Linked DNA regions of Homo sapiens. The protein of the gene in region 6 purifies or fractionates together with the protein of the main gene of each other region. This does not show direct contact. Each region holds a gene or a part of one and is shown on either strand. Other genes may lie near its edges. The genes, in order: ERCC6L, CDK16, QPCTL, RSU1, ZNF587B, SPDYE4 and RPS10-NUDT3.

Region 1 (3,863 bases), on a different chromosome or scaffold from region 6:
TTTCCATACACATAATGAGATATTTTGGAGATGGGATCCAAGTCTAAACATGAAATCCATTTATGTTTCATACACACATTATATACATAGTCTGAAGGTAATTTTATAATTACTTTTAACGATTTTGTGCATGAAACAAAGTTTGTGTATGTTGAACCATTTTATTACCCTTTGTAGGCAGGCTTGCATGGGAGAATCTGGGCCTGTGTGGAAAGGATATATAGTAGCTGAAGGGGTCTAACAGAATCTCTTTTCTCTTGGGGATGCTGAGTAAACAGTGTGTTATACACCTTCATTTTGACTGTGACATGTCACATGACATCAGGTATGGAACTTTCCTCACTTGTGGCATCATGTCAGCACTCAGAAATTTTCCCCATTTTGGATTGGATTAGGGATGCTCAACCTGTATTAAGCTGAAAGCATGAAACAGCATGTTCACAAGCATATCTTAAGATCTGCCAGTATCATCTCAGTGAAACAAAGTGGATGGAAAACACTTGAGAAAAGTAACTTTAATTTTCTTATCTGAACTGTTATATACAAAGATGATCACTTTCAGAGTAAAATTAAGAATGACCAGAATAATTTTACAAAACTTTCCAAGAAACAACACAGTTAAATTTATAGAATATGCCTAAAATATAAGAATATTCAAGTGAAGAAATATTAAGCTAGTGCTCAGAATACCAGACTATGGAGTGGGGGGCGTTGCAGGGCAGAAGTTGCTTTTTGAGATCTTTCTTGCCTTAAGCCTGAATGCTTCATGTTCCCAAAGAATCCAATTATGGGAACAAAAATTCCCTCATATTCAGTTTCACTTTAAAATACAATAAACAGGTTACATTCTCAATTGTTATTAAGTTGCTTATACAAACTTAAAGTCAAGAGCATAACTTCAGGATCTGCACTTTTTATGTCAAGCGCTTTAACTAAGCAGTTTAGGGCCTCCTGGATTTTTCCACACTCTTTTAGTTCTTTTCCACGCTTTACAAGAGTCTCATAGTCATTTGTAGCCTCTGCCGCCTTATCCTGGGGAGAACCAACCAACTGTTCACCAGACAAAGGCTCAGGGGCACCAAGAGAGGTCTCTTGAGCTAGAGCACTAGGCTTAGACGTCATTAACCAGCTGGACTTGTTTTCTGAAGACAGTGTTTCTCCGGAAGGATCCTCTTCTGTATACTTGGAGGCTTCGCCACTGCTTTCCTCCACCCCTTCTTCTGGATAATCTTCAGGACCCTTTGCTTCACTGCTGTCGTCAAGTCTTTCCTCCATGTCCTCCACGTGGTCTAAAACCATATTAATAAGAGACCTCCTAGAAGCCAGAGATCTTCTAGAGTTCATAGACTTATTTACACTACTGGGTATTTGAGATGAAAAGAACCTTCCTGGTGGACTGATGTCATTTTTGGGAGTTGAAGCATCAAATTGTTTCACAGATGAGAATTGAAAGAGAGATGTGTTGAATGGATTTATGCTTGAGGTATCTTTAAAAGAATCATCTTCATCTTCGCCATCTGAAACAATCCTTCTAGCTTTACTTCTGATTTTTGCTTTAACTACTACTTCTTCTGGTTCATCGTCTTTCTCAGAAAACTCCCAACTGAGACATGTTTTGCTATGCACAAACCCTGCTCTGGAATTAGGTGCAGAGCCACACAAGCTATTTTCTTTCTCAACATGCTCTAAAGACTGACTGGAAAAATTTTGTCTGTTGTCTGCTGAGTCTTCCAAGAAAAGATTGAAATCACATGCATACTGTGGTGAAGATGCTGAAGGTTCCTCTTCCAACTTGGCCTCACTTGCTTGAGCATCCTGCAGTGCACTATGGGATGCTGAAAGGTCATCAGCTATTTCAATAATGGATACATTTGATTCTGCATTTTGACTTTCATTTGTTATGGAAATAATGGGCCAAGGATTGCAATGACGTAAAATCTCATCATCCTTTAGTTGATCTAAATTTGGCCCAATATCAGCTTTGGTTGATTTGCTAAGTACATAATTAAAACTTTCCAGAGGATCCTCTTGCAGTGCCTCTTGCTTAGGCCCCTCTTGTAATGTCTCTTTTTGTACAGCTTCATTTTTAGTTGCAAAGCTTTTTTCCATTCCCAATGAAGAGTTAGTACAAAGTTCTTCTACACTTCCAAACCCCTTTGGTAAAGTAGCTATAGAGTCAGCACTACCTGTACCTTTACCATCTTGCAAGGTGGTAACATTCACCTTTATACTGGAGAGATCTTGTTTCTCACCCTCTTTGGGCAGATCATCAATGACTACACTTGCCATTTTGGAACTGATATCTTCTTCCTGAGTATGATGAGTACTTAGAAGAGGTGAAGGCTGAGGCTGTGGTTTATTCAATTTAGGGCATTTCTTCTTTGTTGAAGAAGGAAATACAGGTTCTCTTAGCCAGGCCCCCTCATTTCTAGTTCTTTGTTGTTCCATCAGGAACTCTTTATTTTGAGACTCGAATTCAACGAGGAATTGAGCTTTCTGAACCCTTTGTTGAATATAGTGAGATTCTTCTACCACATCAAGCTCTTCTTTAACAGACAGATCACATGTGTACATCAAATCATGGTCTGAGATTCCAGCTATCCCCAAAGACTGCAGGTAGGCAATATGTTCATCTAGTTTTATATCAGATTTCCTCTGAGCAGCATGCAAAGACTGAAGCTGCAGCTGGGTTACAGAGTTCTGAAGATCCTCGATTGTAAAGAGCTCTCTTAATTCTTGTTTACTAAAATATCGGAAAGGGTTCTTTTTTTCACCAGTAGTTTGTCTTATTAATGAGTCCTTGAAAACCTGTCTTCTGTATATTTTTTCCTCTACAGTCCCACAAGTGATTAGCCTATAAACCACAACATTCTCTTTTTGTCCAATTCGGTAAACTCTATCCACAGCTTGAGCATCAGTTGCAGGATTCCAGCTAGGGTCAAAAATGACCACTCTAGTTGCTGCAGTTAATGTTAAACCGACACCACCTACTTGAGTGGTAAGCAGAAAAACAGAGTAATCTTTATTTTGCTGGAATAAGTTAATTCTTTTTTCTCGTTCCAAAAGATGAGTAACTGTCCCATCGATTCGCAATGTCTTAAAGTGCCTATTCTTTAAGAGGCGTTCAATGATGTTTAGAATTTGCCTCGATTGAGAAAACACCAGAGTTTGATGTCCCTCATCTCGCAGCCTCTTAAGTAGGTCCATTAGGAATATCATTTTTCCAGATTCTTCCATCAATGTGTCATCAGTTACTTGATCAATATGGTCCACATCTGGGGAATCTTCCCCCTCATTTCCATCTTGAGCAGAGAATGTCCCAAGATTTAGCAAACAACAAGCCCGTGCAGACAGCAGCCTAGGATGATCACACAGCTTCTTTAAGACACCTAGCTCAGCCAAAGGTGAGCGCGTCTCCATTAGCAACTCCTTGATATGATCTAAAGACACAAATTTCCTGTATATTTCTTCTTGTAAAGGCACAAGTCGTATCCAAATAATTAAATCATTTTTCCTGGAAAGGGAAGGCATTTCACAAATGGCATCAACATCTGGATTCTTTTCATTAAGTCTGGCCTCTGGGTTGCTTGACTTTTTCTTCTGTACGTCTTCTTTAGTCCTCCTGAGAAAATAGGGTTTTATGATTGCCATTAAGTTTTCAGATATTTTAAATCCCAAGGCTTTTTCTCCTGGGGTAGCATCCTTCTCTCTTGCTCTAGTAATAGGATTTTCATACTCCATCTTAAAAGTTTTTAATGTTCCCAGCAGGGACCCTTGACAAGCAAAATCAAATAGGGACCATAGTTCTTGTAAATTATTCTGGATTGGGGTTCCTGTGAGGAGGAGGCGATTACTTGCAGGAA
Region 2 (3,500 bases), on a different chromosome or scaffold from region 6:
TGGTTCTAAGACCCCCCAAAACACTCTGGCTTTCATGGGAATGCCTGTCACCCACATATCCAGGTAATAATCAGGGTAACCAGGAATCTGTTCCCATTTGGATAAAAGGTAGATGAATTGCAAACCAGGGTTTGGTTCTGAGAACACCCCTGAAAGTGCTCACCAGTTTATTTACTGTAACAATTTCTAGTCAGAATATCACATGGAATGAATTTGAATTGCACTGAAATTTAGTGTGCAAATTCGATTTCACGCGATGCTGCAGGCCTATGTACTGAGGGTTGGAGCCAGGCCCCTTCCCAGAAACCAAAAACAGGTTGTGAAAATCTAGTGTCACATGAGCCTGGGGCTGCAATCCCAGGTTCTTGCTCCATACTCTCCTCTGAGTCTTATTTTCCACATCTGCAACATGGAGACACAACTTTCTTCTGGCATGAGGCGGGTTAGAGCTGGTGGCTCCGAGGCATTACCCTGAACTGTCTAGAGAAAGAAAGAAAACCTGGGCTTGTCCCTTTCTAGTCCTTGTCCTCACCTCTGTCCTGAGGGTAGGACCCTGACTCTTCCCCTGTCCCACTCCCATGCTTCCTGCAGTGTCCCTGCTCAAGGACCTCAAACACGCCAACATCGTTACGCTACATGACATTATCCACACGGAGAAGTCCCTCACCCTTGTCTTTGAGTACCTGGTAAGGTTGAGTGGCAGTAGGTCCCAGGGGGAGGTGAGGAGAAGGCCAGGAGCCATAGGAAGTAACCCTCATTCCTGTACCACCTCTTCTTTCCTCAGGACAAGGACCTGAAGCAGTACCTGGATGACTGTGGGAACATCATCAACATGCACAACGTGAAAGTGGGTGTGGGGCAGGAAGCAGGGGCACAAGGGGGCCCCCACTCACCCACTCCAACCCACAAATCTCCCAGAAACGGACTTTTCCCTTTGGCTTTTTTTGCTAGGAGCCCTTGGAGGGCACTGGGACCCTGTCCTCTTTTGTGTGACAAGGCTCTGGGCCTAGTGTCTGTGTTTGGGAGGGGAGCAGTGCCTGCTGGGGGTCGGGCTAGTGGATAGTCTTTGACCTCTGCCTGCCATTCCTGGGTCCCCAGCTGTTCCTGTTCCAGCTGCTCCGTGGCCTGGCCTACTGCCACCGGCAGAAGGTGCTACACCGAGACCTCAAGCCCCAGAACCTGCTCATCAACGAGAGGGGAGAGCTCAAGCTGGCTGACTTTGGTACCACTGGCCTCCCCTTTCTTATTGGCTCCCCAGCCTCCTACTTTCCCATGACCACTTAGTCTCACTTCCCTTCAGCCTTGCCAGATTTTGCCTAGGACACCCTCAGTCTCAACTGCACTCTCCCCGAGACTTTGCCCATGACTCCCTCATTCTAGCTGTCCTTTCTCTGATTTCCAGGCCTGGCCCGAGCCAAGTCAATCCCAACAAAGACATACTCCAATGAGGTGGTGACACTGTGGTACCGGCCCCCTGACATCCTGCTTGGGTCCACGGACTACTCCACTCAGATTGACATGTGGTAAGGACAGGTGGAAGTGTGGCAGGGGCCATGTGGTAAAGGGGGTGGCTTGGTCACAACAGCCACCCAGCCAGCTGCCTTTCTATTCACTGTGCCCTCCCTGCCCAGGGGTGTGGGCTGCATCTTCTATGAGATGGCCACAGGCCGTCCCCTCTTTCCGGGCTCCACGGTGGAGGAACAGCTACACTTCATCTTCCGTATCTTAGGTGAGGAGGCATGGGCCCTAGGCGCTGTGGAGACACACGGGGAGGACCTGTGAAATGTTTGGGATAACTCCTCTTCCCTACTAGGAACCCCAACTGAGGAGACGTGGCCAGGCATCCTGTCCAACGAGGAGTTCAAGACATACAACTACCCCAAGTACCGAGCCGAGGCCCTTTTGAGCCACGCACCCCGGTGAGGCTGGTGGGTGGGTGGGCGTTAGGGGCCAGAGTGTCCAAACTCATTTTAAATCAGGTCTCTTTGTCCTTGTGGCAGACTTGATAGCGACGGGGCCGACCTCCTCACCAAGCTGTTGCAGGTGAGACCACCTTGGGTCAGCCTTGGGGGTATGGGATTCCAAGTGTGGGGAAACAGGGACCCCCCCCCTCAAACCAGGGGCAGGGTCTGAGGTGGGCAGAGAGACCTACTTGTTGAAGATATCAATACTATCCCCCTCCCCGCACCCCCACTCAGTTTGAGGGTCGAAATCGGATCTCCGCAGAGGATGCCATGAAACATCCATTCTTCCTCAGTCTGGGGGAGCGGATCCACAAACTTCCTGACAGTGAGTGGAGCTGGGGAATGGACCGGCCAGCGTGGGGACTGGGAAACAGGACTGCTGGGGCCAGCTGGCGGGTTGTGTAGGATTCTGGCTGTGCCACCTCTACGTGGGGGGACATCTTGTTCACGTGTGTGATGGGTTGTATTTGTTATGAAAACATTTTTTAGTTTTCAGTTCCTTTTACCTTTCATGAAAAATTTAAAACATACATAAAAATATATGCAATAGCACTTTACTTTTTTTAAAGTAGACATTTCCTTACATGTGCTAAAAAATGCACAAATCATAAGTATACTATACAATGAATTTTCATAAATGAAACACATCCTTGTAACTAGCACAAAAGTCAAGAAACAGAATGTTAAAAGCTCCCCACCCCCAGCTCCCTTGCATCTCCTTCAGTTATTCCCAGCCCCTTCCCAAAGGGTGGCCACTGTTTTGACCTCTAACAGCAAGGATAAGTTTTTTCTGTCCTTGTACTTTATAGAAATAGAATCACATGTGATGTTCTTTTTATATCTGGCTTTTAAAAACTTTTTAATATGGATATTTTCAAATATATGTATTTATATATTAGTCAAAGTAATATGATGAGTCCCTAAGTACTCCAGTGAGTCATCAATTCATGGTCAATCTGGTTTTATCTATATTCTCTCTGATTATTTTGAATCACATCCAATCCCAGACATCATAGCATTTATCCTTAAATAATTTCAGCATATACCTATAAAAGATTTTTTTAAAACAACAATATTATTATCAAACCTACAAAAAACATTTGCTCACTTTCCCTATCTTCCCACTGGATTAATATATAAAGCAAACCCCAAACACCACCCATCACCTAGACTTAACAGGTGGTAATTGCAATACCATAATTCACTTGACAAAGTTAATAATGATTTCTTTGTGTCATGTAATAGTCTATATTTCATCTTCCCTGGTTGTAGCTGGTTTGTGTATGGAATTGTTTGACAGATAAAGGTCAAGCCTCTCAGAGAAGGGGCAGCTTTTTCTAATTCTTCCCATGGGGTCATATGGGGCTGGTCCTAGATGACCTCATGGGTCATCCCCCACTTCTATGTCTCCCCCATCTGTAGCTACTTCCATATTTGCACTAAAGGAGATTCAGCTACAAAAGGAGGCCAGCCTTCGGTCTTCGTCGATGCCTGACTCAGGTAGGTATAGCCCCTTGTCTTCCTCCCTGCCCCACC
Region 3 (3,500 bases), on a different chromosome or scaffold from region 6:
TAGCCTCCCGGGTAGCTGGGATTATAGGCAGGCACCACGACACCTGTCTAATTTTTGTATTTTTAGTAGAGATGGGGTTTCATCATGTTGGCCAGGCTGGTCTCAAACTACTGACCTCAGGTGATCTGCCCGCCTCAGGCTCCCAACGTGCTAGGATTACAGGTGTGAGCCACCATGCCCAGCCTGGCACTTTTTTTTTTTTTGAGATATCATCACCCTCTGTTGTCCAGGCTAGAGTGCAGTGGCTCAATCAAGGCTTACTGCAGCCTTGACTTCCCAGGCCCAAGTGCTCCTCCCACTTCAGCCTCTCGAGTAGCTGGGACTATAGGTGTGAACCACCATGCCCGGCTAATTTTTTTGTATTTTTAGTAAAGACAAGATTTATGCCATGTTGCCCAGGCTGGTTTCAAACTCCTGGGCTCAAGGATCCCCCCCCGCCACCCCGCTCAGCCTCCCAAAGTGCTGGGATTACAGCTGTGAACCACCGTGCCCAGCTGCAAACATTTCTGGAATGCTTGCTATGTGCTGGGTGCTGGTCCAAGTAAGGTCTTTACCGGTGTTAGCATGTTCAATCCCCTCAACAATACTCTAAGATAGGGAGTATTATCCCCATTTTACAGATGAATAAATCAAAGCACAAAGAGGTTAAGGCCACTTAGCACCATTCCCCAGCCCTGGGAAGGGGACTTGGCCAGTTCCAATTTGTGGCTTCCTTGGACACCCACCCTCCATCCCTCCCTGCAGCTGGTACCTCTGCGGAGGAAGGGGATGTGGTCGTCTTCCACAGAGCCAAAGGGCTCCCCGGGTTGGAAGTACATCACTTCCTGGGGATGAGACTGCAGCAGGTTCAAACGGTGCAGACGCTTCTCTGGAAGTGGGGGCGATTAGAGAGGAAGGGTTAGTCCTTAGTAGTCGAAGGTCCCCAGTCCACAAATCAGAGGAAGGCAGAGCACCCAGAGACAAAGCCCTGGTCAGCCCAACAAGAGTGAATGCCAGTTACTCCTTCCTGTGGGCTCACTATGTTCCTGGTCTCATTCAATCCCTCAGAGTCTAAGACATAGACATTCTTTTTTTTGAGACAAGATCTTGTGGCCTGGTGTGGTGGCTCATGCCTGTAATCCCAGCACTTAGGGAGACCAAGGCAGGTGGATCACCTGAGGTCAGGAGTTCGAAACCAGCTTGGCCAACATGGTGAAACCCTGTCTCTACTAAAAATACAAAAATTAGCTGGGTGTGGTGGTGGGCGCCTGTAATCCCAGCTACTTGGGAGGCTGAGGCAGGAGAATTGCTTGAACCTGGGAGGTGGAGGTTGCAGTGAGCTGAGATTGCACCACTGCACTCCAGCCTGGGTGACAGAGTAAGATTCTGTCTCCAAAAAAAAAAAAAAAGATCTTGCTCTCTCACCCACACTGGAGTGCAGTGGGACAATCCCAGCTCAGTGCAGCCTTAATCTCGCTGGCCTAAGTGATCCTTCAGTCTCAGCCTCCCAAATAGCTAGGACTTCAGGCGCATGCCCCCATGCCTGGGTAATTGTGTGTGTGTGTGTGTGTGCGCGTGTGTGTAGAAATGGGATCTTCCTGTGTTGCCCGGGCTGGCCTCAAACTTCTGGGTTCATGTGATCTTCCTGCCTTGGTCACTCAAATTTCTGGGACTACAGGCATGAGCCACTATGTCTGGGCCCTCCGGCCTTTTTTTTTTTTTTTTTTTTGAGACAGAGTCTTGCTCTGTCGCCAGGCTGGAGTGCAGTAGCACAATCTCGGCTCACTGCAACCTCCGCCTCCCGGGTTCAAGCAATTCTCCTGCCTCAGCCTCCTGAGTAGCTGGGAGTACAGGCGCCCACCACCACACCCAGCTAATTTGTGTATTATTAGTAGAGATGGGGTTTCACCATATTGGCCAAGCTGGTCTCGAACTGCTGACCTTGTGATTCGCCCACCTCGGCCTCCCAAAGTGCTGGGATTACAGGCATGAGCCACCAGGCCCGGCCCCCACTGGCCGTTTTACAGATAGGAAACTGAGGCTCAAAGAAATGAAGCCACTTGTCCAAGTTCATCCAGCTGGTAAGATTGGAAACCACGGCTGTCTCACCTTAGAGCCCCTGTCTGGTAATCACTATTACTAATCTCTAGTTCCTTAGAAAGGCTAGGGAGGTAGAGGAAAGGCTGGGTGAGCCTTTATTTTATTTTCTTATTTATTTATTTGTTTATTTATTTATTTATTTAGTGACAGAGTCTCGCTCTGTCACCCAGGCTGGAGTGCAGTGGCACAATTTCAGCTCACTGCAACCTGTGCTCCCAGGTACAAGCGATTCTTCTGCCTGAGCCTCCGGAGTAGCTAGGACTACAGGCACACGCTACCACACCCAGCTAATTTTTGTATTTTTAGTAGAGATAGGGTTTTACCATATTCGCCAGGCTGGTCTCAAACTCCTGACCTTGTGATCCACCTACCTTAGTCTCCCAAAGTATTGGGATTACAGGCGTGAACCATTGCGCCCAGCCAAGCCTTTATTTTTAAAAACAATTTTTAATTTTTTTAATTTTAATTTTTATTATTACTTTTTTTTGAGACAGAGTCTCACTCTGTCCCCAGGCTGGAGTGCAGTGGTGTGATCACAGCTTACTGCAGCCTCGACCTCCCAGACTCAAGTGATCCTACCACTTCAGCCTCCCAAGTCACTGGGACTGCAGGCAGGTGCCACCATGCCTGGCTAATTTTTTTTTTTTTTTTTTTTGAGATGGAGTCTCGCTCTGTTGCCCAGGCTGGAGTGCAGTGGCGTGATCTCGGCTCACTGCAACCTCCGCCTCCCAGGTTCAAGCCATTCTCCTGCTTCAGCCTCCCGAATAGCTAGGATTACAGGCACATGTCACCACGCCCAGCTAACTTTTTGTATTTTTAGTAGAGATGGGGTTTCGCCCTGTTGGCCAGGCTGGTCTCAAACTCCTAACCTCAGGTGATCCACCCGCTTTGGCCTCCCAAAGTGCTGGGATTACAGGTGTGAGCCATCGCGCCTGGCCTAATGTTTGTTTTTATTTTGTAGAGACAGGGTTTCGCCATATTGCCCAAGCTGGTCTGAAACTCCTGAGCTCAAGTGATCCACCTGCCTCTCAAAGTGCTGGGATTACAGGTGTGAGCCACCAAGCCCAGCCTTTATTTTATTTTTATTTTTTATTTTTTTGAGACAGGATCTCATTCTGTTGCCCAGGCTGGAGTGCAGTGGCGCAATCTTGGCTCACTATAGCCTTGACCTCCCAGGCTCTAAGGATACTCCCCAGTAGCTGGGATGACAGGTGCATGCCACTGCACCCAGCTAATTTTTTTTTAAGAGATGGGGTCACCAGGCACGGTGGCTCACGCCTGTAATCCCAGCACTTTGGGAGGCTGAGGTGGACGGATCACGAGGTCAGGAGTTCAAGACCAGCTTGGCCAACATAGTGAAACTCTGTCTCTACTAAAATACAAAAATTAGCTGGGCATGGTGGCATGCGCCTGTAGTCCCA
Region 4 (3,500 bases), on a different chromosome or scaffold from region 6:
TGACGTACAACAACTTGAGCGAAAATTCTCTTCCTGGAAACTTCTTCTACCTGAGTAAGAAACTTTCAATTCTATAAATCTCCTCAACCTTGTACTTTGCGTTCTGAGAGGGAAATTTATTTGCCAGGACCCAAACTCCAAGAGAAATTATTGGACAGAGATAATTTTTTCTTTAGAGACTCCTTTTGAATATTCCTTCGTAGCTCAGCAGTATGTGCATTTGATAGATCGTTATGTGACACCATTGGGCTGAAGTGGACTTAGTAATGTCATATTAACATTCTGAGAGAGATTATATACCTAAATGAGATCAAGCCTCACATTTAGCTAAGAGACTTGACTTTCTTTTTAAATAGCATGCCAAAAAAAAAAAAAAAAGTATCTTCCTATGTTGCTATTAATTCTTTGTAGGATATTTGCCCAGGATATTCCAACCAATTATTTATTAAAAATATTTATTAATAAACCAGTAACACAATTTTAAAATTTTCCAGCCAGTATTCCTATTTTGAGCCTTTTAAAAAGTACTCTTATTGACCTATTTATCCAGTACACAGGCATTAAGAAATTATTGGCCACAGGTGAACACACTTTATTCTTTCATATGCAAACAAATTTCTTGCTGGAGATGCTTTTGAAAATTAAAAAATGATTTCTTCTGGGAACTCATGCACTATTTTGGACAAGGTTTGCTTCCCTTAAATCAGTGTTCTATTTCTTCAAATAGTAACTTGTGTGGCATTCAGAAAATCTGAATTTTCAGAGCTGATCTCTAAAATTTTATTTTTTACCTTACGTACATTACCTTTCTATGACTTTCTCAAGCACATGAAACCAACTATAAAATATTTTCTTGGGCAGTGGAGCAACTATTTTTATTATGTTATATTAACATGCAGTTCTCGGGAGTATGAGCTACAAAGATCACTTGAGGCTAGGAGTTCAAGACCAGCCTGGGCAACATAGAGAGACCCTGTCTCTAGAAATAAAAATTTAAAAAGTAGCCAGGCATAGTAGCATGAGCCTGTGATCTTAGCTACTTGGGAGGCTGAGGTAGAAAGAGTGCTTGAGGCCAGGAGTTTGAGGCTGCAGTGACCCACTGCACTCCAGCCTAGGTGACAGAGCGAGACTCTGTCTCTAAAAAATAAATACGGGTAAACAAAACATGTATCTAATTATACTCAGCTTTTTTGGTTGAAGATAAACAGATGCTTTAGAATTTTAGCCTTCAGTAGGTTGGAATCGTATTATCATTGTGTAATAATTATGAACAAATTTCTGACTACTGATATTCTCCTTAAGTTAGGATTTACTCTGTTAACTTCATGTCATTATTTTAGCCTCTTTGTCTTCATTTACTTTTGTCCTTAAGGCTGTAGAAACACGTAGTAATAATTAGTCAGATTATGGAACTGATGAGCTGTGGTTATAGCCTCCATCACCAGAAAGCCTTCCATTAATTTGTAACACAGTGCTATTTACATAGGAAAAGGTCTATTTTAACAGAGCTGTATTCTCTTGAAAGAACCCTTTTGCCCTAGGTATCCATAAAAGTGGCACAGTAGTGTTCTTTGTTTTACTTTGGATGCAAATGGAGAAATAAATGTGAATCAAAAGTAATCTATGAGAAGTATAGCAATCTTTTCTGAAAATGTGCTGAAACTCTGTGCCCCAAAATGCTGGCGCCCACAGTTGTTAATTGCGTCATTCCTCTTGGATATAGATGTTTTCCTGGACACACCAGCTACACAATAAGCCAGTAAATCTAAGTTTGACCTGCTTGTTATTATTGGGAGCCCTAGGTATGTCAAAGGCTTTTCACCAAGCCAGGGTTATTAATCAAAGCTGACTCCCTCGTATTGATCAGACCTCAAATGGTTGTGTTCCATGCCACCCTGTTTATATATTGCTGTTTAATTTGCAGCCACCCTGCGTGCACTCTATCTAAGTGACAACGATTTTGAAATCCTGCCGCCAGATATTGGGAAGCTCACAAAGTTGCAGATAGTAAGTAATTTATCTAAATTCTTAGAAAATCAATTCACTGCTGCAGCCTTGTAGGGGTAGAATCAAGTCAATTTGAGCAGGAGTAAGGTTTGTTTTGTGGGAATAAACCACTACTCCTGATAGTGTTTCTTGATTATCCGCCGGCACTTGTAAATACATGGAAAGGATTGAGCTTTAGTAGAAGAGAGGACATAGAGGATGAGAGTTTCTGTGGAGCACCTTTTAATGTGTAAATATGTTGACAACTTGTTTTCTTCTGTTTAGCTCAGCCTTAGGGATAACGACCTGATCTCGCTGCCTAAGGAAATCGGGGAGCTTACCCAGCTTAAAGAGCTCCACATTCAGGGGAACCGCCTCACCGTTCTGCCCCCAGAACTAGGTAAGGTTGCTGATGAATGAACTTAGTTCTGGGTTTCATGAATAACAATTATCCTAATGTAGCAATTCTGAACAACCTCTGTCCTCTTCTTGGCAACTACTCTCCACCTAGGCACACGATGCTGATCATTTGAGAACCATTTGTCATTGACCAGAGTTAGCTGTTACAGGTTTGACCTTCCCGGATCCTGTGTTCTGCAGCTGTAGTGTCCCCTGTCTTAGAAACTGCTGATGAAAGATGACCCCGCTCAGCTCCCTGCGTGATGTAGTGGGAAAAGCATGGGATTAGTAGTAAGAGCCTTATCCCTGGCTCCTCATTGACTAGCTGGGTAAGCTTTCTGGGTCTTGGTTGGTTATTAATAACTTTAAGTATCACTCTTACTTTTTAACCCCTTAAATTTTTATTGACCTGGAAAAACTTTTACCAAATAGTTAAAGTAGTTGTTATGGCTACTTGAACATGTTGATACCTCTGCGGGTCGTGAATTTGCCTCTCTCCTGATCCCATCTCTAGTAGGAATTGTTAAATATGTTCTTGCTGGGAATGGATCCTACTCCTGGCCGCTGAATCCTAATCCTGTTTCTCTGCCAGGTCGTTCCTATTTCCAGGGTGGGTTTATGTCCCCCGCCAGAAATAACCTCCAAGCCAGTAATTCTGTTACTGCTTCGTTCCACTGCAAAAGGTTCACGAGTTCCCTTATCTTTTCTTGTGCAGACCCTCCATAGCCTCTCATTTCTTCAGTCCTTTGAACCACATTGTTTTCTCAAACTGCGATTATTTGCTTTTCTACTCCAAAATACCATCATTTTTAAGAAACACATTGAGGAAGCAGTTCTTTAAACAAGTTTGGCAGTTTGAAGAGGCCATTTGTTAGAAATTAGAATGCAATCACCAGGAGGGCAGGGACATTTTTGTATTTGTTCCCTCGGGTACAGTAGGTGCTCAGAAAACACTGACTGAATGAATTAATGAAGCAAGGACCTTGGATGACAGGACGTTAGGAAGGTTATGAGCAGGCTCATGTGGCTAATGGTTACGCATAGGAAGACTGAGACACAGAGCACGCCTATCAGCACCTTGAGTTCTGTTGGCAGCCATATTAGTCTAAAGGGAA
Region 5 (4,258 bases), on a different chromosome or scaffold from region 6:
TGCCACCTGCTGACTGTACAGGGCTAGGGCCTTGAGGGAACACAGGCGATAGCCATGTAGTGGTCACAGGAGCCTTGGGTGAAACCCAGTGCTGTGCTGGCTTCAGCTCTCACCCAGCACAGTCCCAGTGGTGGTAGCTAAAGGGGTGCTTCTGTCCCAACCCCCAGTTTCAGGCACTTCAGCACTGACAGAGACATGCTGGGACAAAGTGAGGGAAGACCCAACAAGAGTCTCTACCTGTTATGTTAATCAAGGGAAATCTTTCAGATCTTATTCAAGACCACAAAGGTGGTACAGCTCTCTGAGTCTGCAAGAGTCACAGCATTACTGAGTGTGGGGTTCCCGCTAAAGTAGATTCAGCTTAGATCACAACACCCGGGTCCTTTCAAATACCTGGAAACTCTTCCTAAGAAGGACAGGTACAAATGAGCCCAGACTGTGAAGACCACAATAAACACCTAACTGTTTAATGCCCAGACACTGACGAATATCTACAAGCATCAACACCATCCAGGAAAACGTGACCTCACCAAACAAACTAAATAAAGCACCAAAGACGAATCCTGGAGAAACAGAGATACGTGACCTTTCAGACAGATAATTCAAGATAGCTATTTTGAGGAAATTCAAAGAAATTCAAGACAAACACGGAGAAAAAATTCAGAATTCTATCAGATAAATTCAGCAAAGAAATTAAAATAATTAAATAGAATTGGCCGGGCACAGTGGCTCACGCCTGTAATCCCAACACTTTGGGAGGCCAAGGCGGGCGGATCACAATGTCAAGAGATTGAGACCATTCTGGCCAACATGGCGGAACCCCGTCTCTACTACAAATGCAAAAATAAGCCGGGCATAGTAGTGCATGCCTGTAGTCCCAGCTACTCGGGAGGCTGAGGCAGGAGAATGGCATGAACCCGGGAGGTGGAGCTTGCAGTGAGCCGAGATCGTGCCACTGCGCTCCAGTCTGGGCGATAGAGCGAGACTCTGTCTCAAAAAAAAACAAAAAGAAAAAGACAATTTGTATTTCACAGGGCACTCTGCTATAAAGGGTAAGATGTTTTGTTTAGTAAACAAATAAAAAAATAAAGACAGCCAGGCACGGTGGCTCACGTCTGTAATCCCAGCACTTTCGGAGGCCGAGGCGAGCGTATTGCCTGAGCTCGGGAGTTCGAAACCAGGCTAGGCAACATGGCGAAACCCCGTCTCTACTAAAAATACAAAAAATTAGCCGGGCATGGTGGCGGGTGTCTGTAATCCCAGCTACTTGGGAGGCTGAAGCAGGAGAATCGCTTGAACCCGGCAGGCGGAGGTTGCAGTGAGCCGAGATCACGCCACTGTACTCCAGGCTGGGTGACAGACTGAGACTCTGTCTCAAAAAAAAAAAAAATAAATAAATAAAATAAGCTGGGCTCGGTGGCTCGCGCCTGTAACCCCAGCACTTTGGGAGGCCGAGGCAGGTGAATCACCTGAGATCAGGTGTTCGAGACCAGCCTGACCTACATGGAGAAACTCCATCTCTACTAAACATACAAAAAATTAGCCAGGTGCAGTGGCGCATGCCTGTAATGACACCTACTCGGGAGGCTGAGGCAGGAGAATCGCTTGAACCCAGGAGGCGGAGATTGCGGTGAGCCGAGATCACGCCATTGCATCCAGCCTGGGCAACAAGAGTGAAACTCCGTCTCAAAAAAATAAAAAATAAAGACTGCATCTAACGAGGTAAGGTCACCAACGAGCACACTGTTCCACTATCAGTTCTCACTAGAGGATTCTGTGATGTAATGCCCAACCTTGTTTTTACTAACCCTGTTTTTAGATTCTCCCTTTCCTTTAATCACCTAGACTTGTTTCCACCTGAATTGACTCTCCCTTACATAAGAGAGCCAGACAGACTCCATCTTGGCTCTTTCACTGGCAGCCCCTTCCTCAAGGACTTAACTTGTGCAAGCTGACTCCCAGCACATCCAAGAATGCAATTAACTGATAAGATACTGTGGCGAGCTATATCCGCAGTTCCCAGGAATTCGTCTGATTGATAACGCCCAAAGCCCCCCATCTATCACCTTCTAATAGTCTTAAAGCCCCTGCACCTGGAACTGTTTACTTTCCTGTAACCATTTATCCTTTTAACTTTTCTTGCCTACTTTACTTCTGTAAAATTGTTTTAACTAGACCCCCCCTCCCCTTTCTAAACCAAAGTATAAAAGAAAATCTAGCCCCTTCTTTGGGGCCGCGAGAACTTTGAGCGTTACCCATCTCTTGGCCGCCGGCTAAATAAACGGATTTTTTTTTAAATAAACGGACTCTTAATTCGTCTCAAAGTGTGGCGTTTTCTCTAACTCGCTCAGGTACAGTGACTATAAAAGATTAGGCCTTCAGCAGCTCAAAAGGGCTGTCCTGACAGTCACTCCTAATAAAAACTCAGCATCTGCTGCCTATGGCTCTGCCACCTTAAAGACTCTTCCTTGCAAGACTACAGGCTTTTGGGTGATGATGAGGTGACCTGAGGGCATGGAAGGCACCACAATTACCTGAGCAGAGAGCCTCAGCGTGGCCACCACCGCCATCGAACCACGTGGTTTAAAGCAGGGTTGGGAGGAGAGGGTGACCAGCCAGGAGATATGGGCATGACGGTCCCTATCCTGGCCCAGGGGTGGGTCACGCTTGGCGCCGTCACAGAGCTCCAGAGTCGCCTCTGTGCAGCAGAGGACAACTGTTCTCCGCCTTCTGGGTTCAGTCACCGCAGTGCCGACCTAGCGCTCAGGAGCCTCTCCGACAAATAAACCCAACACCAATCAAAATGGCCGCCACCAGAGGGCGCCGGAAGTCCGGACCCATTGTCACGTGCACACAGGAAATGCCTTTATTCTGAGCCCCCATGGCTCTTCCACTCTGTCATTCCATGCGGAGTTTTCTGGGTAATGTAGTTCCCTAGGTAACAAGGAGGGTAAAGGGCACAATTCCCAGAGGCGGTTCTGCAGGAAAAGCCCAGCTCCACCTCAGGAGTATCCTTAAGATATGCGCCCTGACTGGTATGGTGGCTAGCTCCTGTAATTCCACCAGTTTGGGAGGCCAAGTCAGAAGGATCATTTGAGGCCAAGAGTTAGAGATTAGCCTGAGCAACAAAGCAAAATCCTGTTTGAAGGGGGCCTGCCCCTCCATACCTATGGGTATCTCTCATCAGGTGGAGACGAGAGACTGAGAAAAGAAATTAGACACAGAGAAAAAGTATAGAGAAAGAATAGTGGGCCCAGGGGACTGGCACATTCAGCATGTGAGGACCTTCACCGGCGCCGGTCTCTGAGTTCCCTCAGTATTTATTGATCATTATTTTTACTCTCTTGGTGAGGGGAGTGTGGCAGGGCAACAGGGTGATGGTGGGGAGAAGGTCAGCAGGGAAACACGTGAGCAAAGGAATCTGTATCATGAATAAGTTCAATGAAAGGTACTGTGCGTGGATGTGCACATAGGCCAGATTTATGTTTCACTTTAAACAAACATCTCAGTGTAGCAAAGAGCAACAGAGCAGTATTGCTGCCAGCATATCTCGCTTCTAGCCACAGGGTAGTTTTCTCCTATTTCAGAATACAACGAATGGGAATGGTTGGCTTTACACCATGACATTCCATTCCCAGGAATGAGCAGGAGACAGAAGCCTTACTCTTATCTCAACTGCAAAGAGGCCTCCCTCTTTCACTCCTCCTCCTCAGCACAGACCCTTTAAGGGTGTCCGGCTGGGGGATGTAAGGTCTTTCCTTTCCCATGAGGCCATATCTCAGGCTGTCTCAGTGGGGGAAACCTTGGACAATACCCAGGCTTTCTCAGGCAGAGGTCCCTGCAGCTTTCCGCAGTGCATTGTGTCCCTGGTTAATAGAGAATGGAGAATGGCGATGACTTTTACCAAGCATACTGCCTGCAAACATATTGTTAACAAGGCACATGCTGCACAGCCCTAAATCCATTAAACCTTGATTCAATACAGTACGTTTCTGTGAGCACAGGGTTGGGGCTAAAGTTACAGATTAACAGCATCTCAAAGCAGAACAATTTTTCTTAATACAGATCAAAATGGAGTTTCTTATGGCTTCCTTTTCTACATAGACACAGTAACAATCTGATTTCTTTTCCCCATATCCTGTCTCTGCAAAAAATAAAAAATATTAGTGGGGTGAGGTCAGGCAGGCCAGTGGTCCCAGCTGCCCCAAGGTTGGGGTTAGGGTTAGGGAGCCTGAAGGAGGGAGAATCGCTTGAGCTC
Region 6 (2,597 bases):
CATTTCAGCCTGGGGAATGGGACAAGATCCTTGTCTCAAATAAATAAATAAATAAATAAAATAAAATAAAATAAAGGGCCAGGGGAGGTGGCTTACGCCTGTAATCCCAGCACTTTGGGAGGCCGAGGCGGATGGCTCACGAGGTCGGGAGATCAAGACCATCCTGACTAACACGGTGAAACCCCGTTTCTGCTAAAAATACAAAAAATTAGCCGAGCATGGTGGCCTGTGCCTGTAGTCCCAGCTACTTGGGAGGCTGAGGCAGGAGAATGGCGTGAACACAGGAGGTGGAGCTTGCAGTGAGCTGAGATTGCGCCACTGCACTCCAGCCTGGGTGACAGAGCAAGACTCCATCTCAAAAACAAACAAACAAACAAACAAAAAGATTCAGCATTATTTTCCAGGGTTAATAGATTTGTTCAAATAACTAAAACCGCATTAAACAAAAATGTCATTGGACAACAAATAAGCAATCCAGACCAATATGGTCACAGTCGTTGTGAAGATGAGAAAACTTCATCTTTATTGCATTTTCCCAGGTAGCGCAGTGCACTGTCCTCTTTGAAACACACAGCTCCTGTCCTCCTTTCAAACACATGTCCTCTTTAAAGTAACATACAAACCTTTCAATACAAGCTAAAAAATTACGTCTGAATTCTCACAGTTCAATAACAAACAAACACTCAACATCAAATAAAAATTTATTTTTACAAGAATTTCGGGGAAATGCCACCTAGCTATAAATAGAATAGATATATTATGTAACTACTCTAGGTCATAACAGTGCTCCCTTCAGCAGCACATGTAATAACAGATAAAAAGATTTAAAAATAAAACATTTAGGATAAAAAGAATCCTCTCTTAAAAATGAAAACAGAATTATATCTATGTGTATATAACAGGTGTAACACCCATCACACAACTTCATAAGAACAGTGTCTTTTAAAAAATACTTGTATTTCTAAACTAGTTAAATAAATGTAGTAATAATGCCATGCCCATCATTTTCAAAATAAACAAATAAAATGTATAGTATATATTGGACATGTTAGTATATATGGAAGGCATGTTAAAAATCACAACTGAATTCTCACAATTCAGTAACAAACAGTAAACAGAAAATAAACATTTCTATTTGCAAGAATGTAGGGGAACTACCACCTAGCTATAAATATAATGGATATATTAGGTCAGTATCATAGATTACAAGAGTGCTCGCTTCAGGAGCACATTTAATAATAGATAAAACGATTTAAAGAGAAAACATTTACGATAAAAAGAATCCTCTCTTAAAAATGAAAACTAAATTATATTTATGTGTATATAACAACCGTCAGAGAACTCTATAGGAACAGCATGTTTTCAAAACTACAAAAACCCCAAACTATTTTAAATCAACCTAGTAATAATTCTATGGCCAACATTTGAAAAATAAACCAACAAAATGTACAGTATCTATTAAACTATCTCTTAAAATCCTATGGCAGTAATTTCATATTTTACAAAGAATTCCGTAACAATCTGAGTGCCTGCGCTGTGCCTTCAAATGCTCTGGACTGTGGCAACCAAGTCCATAGGAAACAGGAACTCCAGCTTCCAGCCCAGGGGAGGCTGGGATTCAGCAACGTGAAAAGGGAGGTTTTGCCGCAGGAAGGGGTGGAACCAGAAACACCCCTGGTTTCTCACTTTCCCTCCACTGACTCCTAGAAATACCTCCATGGCTCCTAGGAGGAAAACCTGGTCAATCTATTTTGCCCCTTCTAGAAGAGTCCAGCTTCTTCTAGATGATCTGCACAGGAGGCTCCTCTCTCCCTTCCTGGTGTCTGGCATTAGCGTCGCGATAAACTTCCTGCTGAAAATTCCCATCTCCCCTGGGCCCAGTGTTCTGGAAGTGAGAGAGAGGATGTCACACTTCAAGGAGGGAGATCTCTAGATAGGAAGGTTATTCCCATCCCACATCAATCCTAACTAGAGTTCAGAGCAATATATAAATCTGATTTTATCTCTAACCCTTTATTGTAAACCCTGATTCTGAACCATCATTTTTGATTCTGGTACTCACACTTTGGTGAGCTTGACTCCAAAAATCACTTAATATACCCAAGGTTAGCCCCAGTGATCTGCTTCATAGCAAGGACTTTGGGTGGCTCCACCCAGGGAGTAGAGCACCCTTGGAGGACGTGGCTTTGGACTTCATCACACTTGGGGCCCTTTATATTGCTTAAGATCTAAACTTTTAACCATGCTACAAACATGTCTAACACGACAACCTCAGGAACCAGCAGACCAGATTCCTAATCCCCAACCTTAATCTCTCATGTTTTAGTCTAATGCTTGGTCCTAAATGTGGTTAGCTGCACAAGATGTCAACCAAATCTTCACTGAATCCTTTCCTCAAATCAGTAACTCAAGTGTATCAACCATAATGAACCTCCCTGGACCTAGGTAGTATTCTCATTTTTGAGAAAGAGTGTCACTCTGTCGTCCCGGCTGGAGTGCAGTGGCAGAATCACAGCTCACTGCAGCCCCGACCTCCGGGGCTCTGGTGTTCCTTCCGCCTCAGGCTCCTGAGTAGTGGGGACTAGAGGCGCCCACCA
Region 7 (3,376 bases), on a different chromosome or scaffold from region 6:
GGAAAATGGAGCAGGAACACAGCTACCTGAGGCTGCACAGCTCATTGGAGCCATTTATGTGATTGGAGCCCAGCACTTTGGCTTCAGAGTCCTTGTTCCTGACCATAACACTCTAGCAGAGCTGGTCAGGATTCAGAGTACCTGAAAGCATGATCCAATTTTGGTTGTCTCAAGATTGTTTCTTTTTCAAGTATATGAAAAAAGGGCAGTTGTGCTAGGGTATTGAGAGTGGTTTTTTCTGGTTTATAAGATTATGGGTAGTTATTACTTTTATAAGATAAAAAATATAAAGGATTTTAAAGCATGGACTAGAAAAGAGTAAGAAAATAGACTGAAAAATAAAAGTGTGATTGTATTGAGATTATTTTTACTTCTTTTAAGAAATATTTTCTATTATGTAGATAAATTCACTCTTATAAGAAAACTTTTAAATGAATTACTGATTACAAACCAGCCATCCTAGTAATTCTGGAAGCTGATGCTCGTGTTGATTTTTCCCCCCTTGGGACAGGGTCTCACTCTGTCACCCTGCTGGAGTGCAGTGGCGCGATGACAGCTCACTGCAGCCGCGACCTTCCGGGCTCAGGTGATCCTCCCACCTCAGCCTCCTGGGTAGCTGGGAGTACAGGCACATGCTACCATGCCCAGCTAATTTTTGTATTTTTTGTAGAGACAGAGTTTTGCCATGTTGCTCAGGCCAGTCTCAAACTCCTGGGCTCAAGCGATCCGCCCACCTTAGCCTCCTAAAGTGCTGGGATTGTAGGCGTGAGCCACCTCATCCGGCCCTCATGTCAGTTTTTACAGGAGATGGGGATGCTGCTGGGCTTTGATCCCTATGTATGTGCAAGCAAGGAAAGCTCAGAGACGCAGGAGGGCAGGAGGAAAACACTAGCCGTAGTTCTCTCTGGAGGGCAGGTTTTACACAATTACTCTTAGCTCTTTGGTTTTCAGGTTTCTCACCTTTCTGCATTAGACATTGATATAATATTTGAAGCATATGAAGTGTGCTTGAGTTATTTTTGTAAGGAAAAAAAGTGTTAAGAAACATTGCTTTAATGTTTTCTATATTTTCTCAAAAGTTCTAGGCTCAGAAACCTTATTACTCTTGTACTAGTTTCTTTTCTCTCTGCCTCCACAGGAAGGAAGAGGGAATGGTTTAAAATAGAAGACGCCATAAAAGTGCTGCAGTATCACAAACCCGTGCAGGCATCATATTTTGAAACATTGAGGCAAGGCTACTCAGCCAACAATGGCACCCCAGTCGTGGCCACCACATACTCGGTTTCTGCTCAGAGCTCGATGTCAGGCATCAGATGACTGAAGACTTCCTGTAAGAGAAATGGAAATTGGAAACTAGACTGAAGTGCAAATCTTCCCTCTCACCCTGGCTCTTTCCACTTCTCACAGGCCTCCTCTTTCAAATAAGGCATGGTGGGCAGCAAAGAAAGGGTGTATTGATAATGTTGCTGTTTGGTGTTAAGTGATGGGGCTTTTTCTTCTGTTTTTATTGAGGGTGGGGGTTGGGTGTGTAATTTGTAAGTACTTTTGTGCATGATCTGTCCCTCCCTCTTCCCACCCCTGCAGTCCTCTGAAGAGAGGCCAACAGCCTTCCCCTGCCTTGGATTCTGAAGTGTTCCTGTTTGTCTTATCCTGGCCCTGGCCAGACGTTTTCTTTGATTTTTAATTTTTTTTTTTTATTAAAAGATACCAGTATGAGATGAAAACTTCCAATAATTTGTCCTATAATGTGCTGTACAGTTCAGTAGAGTGGTCACTTTCACTGCAGTATACATTTATCTACACATTATATATCGGACATATAATATGTAAATAAATGACTTCTAGAAAGAGAAATTTGTTTAATTTTTCAAGGTTTTTTTCTCTTTTAATTTGGGCATTTCTAGAATTGAGAGCCTCACAATTAACATACCTTTTTGTTTTCGATGCTAGTGGCTGGGCAGGTTGCCCTGTCCTTTCTCTATTTCCCAGTCATTGACTGTAGATATGGGAAGAGTTTAGCTACCTTCATAGTGCTCCCAGGACTCATGGCCTTTCCTTCTTTAAGCTGTATTTCCCTGCCCAGAAAGAAACAGGAAGAAACCTTTTTTTATTTTTTTATTTTTTTTTAACCAAGCAAGGAGCAAATGGCCTCAGCCCAGATCTGTAAAAACAATGATAGAAATTGAATTCTGCCCCACATGTTGACAGTAGAGTTGGAACTGGATTCTTGGGATTACTTATCTAAAAAACTGGAGCATCAGGTCCATTTCTGTTCTGCTGGTTTGGAATCTTTTCCGTAATGCTATTTATTGCCAACAATGGCCTCTCTTTGTGTCCATATATGCCTTACACCGTGCTGACCTGGGTATCATCCATGTGCTCTGAAGCATCCAACTTTACTTTGCAGGTGCATCAATGTAGTCCTGTCCCTGAACTGAGTAACCGTGTTCCTGAAAAGTACACTAGGGAAATTCACCTGCTTGCTTGTCTTTGTATTGGCATGGCACTTGTGATTGCACCATGGAGCATGCTCAGAGCTATTAAATTGGTCTCCCATCTCCCACCAGGATATGAAAGGTCCATATGGGAGGCCACGTAATCACTTATTACAGTGGTTACATAATACACTGGCTCACTGCAGACTCTCTTGTTTTTTGATACAGTTTCGTGCTGGCTTCATTTGCCAATTGTGTTGTTTAGTTCGGAAGTAAGAGGGTCTTGAGATTGAGGGGTAGGGAGGGCTACACTGACTGATCCGTGGCTTAAGACAGGAGATTATCTCTGTACTCCAGTGGCATCTCCTTAGCCAAGATGTGAAATTAAAATCATAGTTCGCCTCATTTAAAAATTCTAATAAAGCACTCAAACTTTGAAAAGCTTTTACTTTTCCCTCCTACTAAAAGAAATGTATGTACCTCATAGCCCTGTGTCATTTAGTGTTCAGCACTTTTGGGAACATCAGTTGGTGAACTTTAAATTTTGCTGTCTACTCACTGGGCACGGTGGCTCACACCTGTAATCCCAGCACTTTGGGAGGCTGAGGCAGGTGGATCACCTGAGGTCAGGAGTTTGAGACCAGCCTGACCAACATGGTGAAACCCCGTCTCTACTAAAAATGCAGAAATTAGGTGGGCGCCTGTAATCCCAGCTACTTGGGAGGCTGAGGCGAGATAATCGCTTGAACCTGGGAGGCAGAGGTTGCAGTGAGCCGAGATTGCACCACTGTCGTCCAGCCTGGGTGATAAGAGTGAAACTCCATCTCAAAAAAAAAAAAAAAAAATTTTTTTTTTTTTTTTTGCTATATACTCTTAGTTTACATCCTCTCCCCCAATCTTCACACACAGAGCCAAAGAGCAGTTATATTCTTGGGATACCA

What was found.
Region 1: the proteins of SPDYE4 (region 6) and ERCC6L purify together in Homo sapiens (affinity purification with mass spectrometry; one large-scale study listed by BioGRID and IntAct). This does not show direct contact.
Region 2: the proteins of SPDYE4 (region 6) and CDK16 purify together in Homo sapiens (affinity purification with mass spectrometry; one large-scale study listed by BioGRID and IntAct). This does not show direct contact.
Region 3: the proteins of SPDYE4 (region 6) and QPCTL purify together in Homo sapiens (affinity purification with mass spectrometry; one large-scale study listed by BioGRID and IntAct). This does not show direct contact.
Region 4: the proteins of SPDYE4 (region 6) and RSU1 purify together in Homo sapiens (affinity purification with mass spectrometry; one large-scale study listed by BioGRID and IntAct). This does not show direct contact.
Region 5: the proteins of SPDYE4 (region 6) and ZNF587B purify together in Homo sapiens (affinity purification with mass spectrometry; one large-scale study listed by BioGRID and IntAct). This does not show direct contact.
Region 7: the proteins of SPDYE4 (region 6) and RPS10-NUDT3 purify together in Homo sapiens (affinity purification with mass spectrometry, with the first as the bait; one large-scale study listed by BioGRID). This does not show direct contact.

The regions. Positions count from the first base shown.
Region 1 is NC_000023.11:72,204,165-72,208,027, forward strand, and holds the end of ERCC6L (DNA excision repair protein ERCC-6-like), read right to left. Parts: coding exon 850-3,863; 3' UTR 501-849; downstream 1-500. UniProt on the Homo sapiens protein: DNA helicase that acts as a tension sensor that associates with catenated DNA which is stretched under tension until it is resolved during anaphase. Functions as ATP-dependent DNA translocase. Can promote Holliday junction branch migration (in vitro).
Region 2 is NC_000023.11:47,225,181-47,228,680, forward strand, and holds part of CDK16 (cyclin-dependent kinase 16), read left to right. Parts: intron 1-591; coding exon 592-686; intron 687-784; coding exon 785-847; intron 848-1,098; coding exon 1,099-1,222; intron 1,223-1,402; coding exon 1,403-1,523; intron 1,524-1,631; coding exon 1,632-1,729; intron 1,730-1,813; coding exon 1,814-1,919; intron 1,920-2,000; coding exon 2,001-2,043; intron 2,044-2,198; coding exon 2,199-2,289; intron 2,290-3,386; coding exon 3,387-3,464; intron 3,465-3,500. UniProt on the Homo sapiens protein: Protein kinase that plays a role in vesicle-mediated transport processes and exocytosis. Regulates GH1 release by brain neurons. Phosphorylates NSF, and thereby regulates NSF oligomerization. Required for normal spermatogenesis.
Region 3 is NC_000019.10:45,699,166-45,702,665, reverse strand, and holds part of QPCTL (glutaminyl-peptide cyclotransferase-like protein), read right to left. Parts: intron 869-3,500; coding exon 752-868; intron 1-751. UniProt on the Homo sapiens protein: Responsible for the biosynthesis of pyroglutamyl peptides.
Region 4 is NC_000010.11:16,751,425-16,754,924, reverse strand, and holds part of RSU1 (ras suppressor protein 1), read left to right. Parts: coding exon 1-54; intron 55-1,924; coding exon 1,925-2,007; intron 2,008-2,271; coding exon 2,272-2,386; intron 2,387-3,500. UniProt on the Homo sapiens protein: Potentially plays a role in the Ras signal transduction pathway. Capable of suppressing v-Ras transformation in vitro.
Region 5 is NC_000019.10:57,828,841-57,833,098, reverse strand, and holds the start of ZNF587B (zinc finger protein 587B), read right to left. Parts: upstream 2,801-4,258; 5' UTR 2,571-2,800; coding exon 2,535-2,570; intron 1-2,534. UniProt on the Homo sapiens protein: May be involved in transcriptional regulation.
Region 6 is NC_000017.11:8,750,353-8,752,949, forward strand, and holds the end of SPDYE4 (speedy protein E4), read right to left. Parts: intron 1,886-2,597; 3' UTR 501-1,885; downstream 1-500.
Region 7 is NC_000006.12:34,286,694-34,290,069, reverse strand, and holds the end of RPS10-NUDT3 (RPS10-NUDT3 protein), read left to right. Parts: intron 1-1,138; coding exon 1,139-1,317; 3' UTR 1,318-2,876; downstream 2,877-3,376. Other genes in the region: NUDT3 (diphosphoinositol polyphosphate phosphohydrolase 1), read left to right, coding at 1,139-1,317.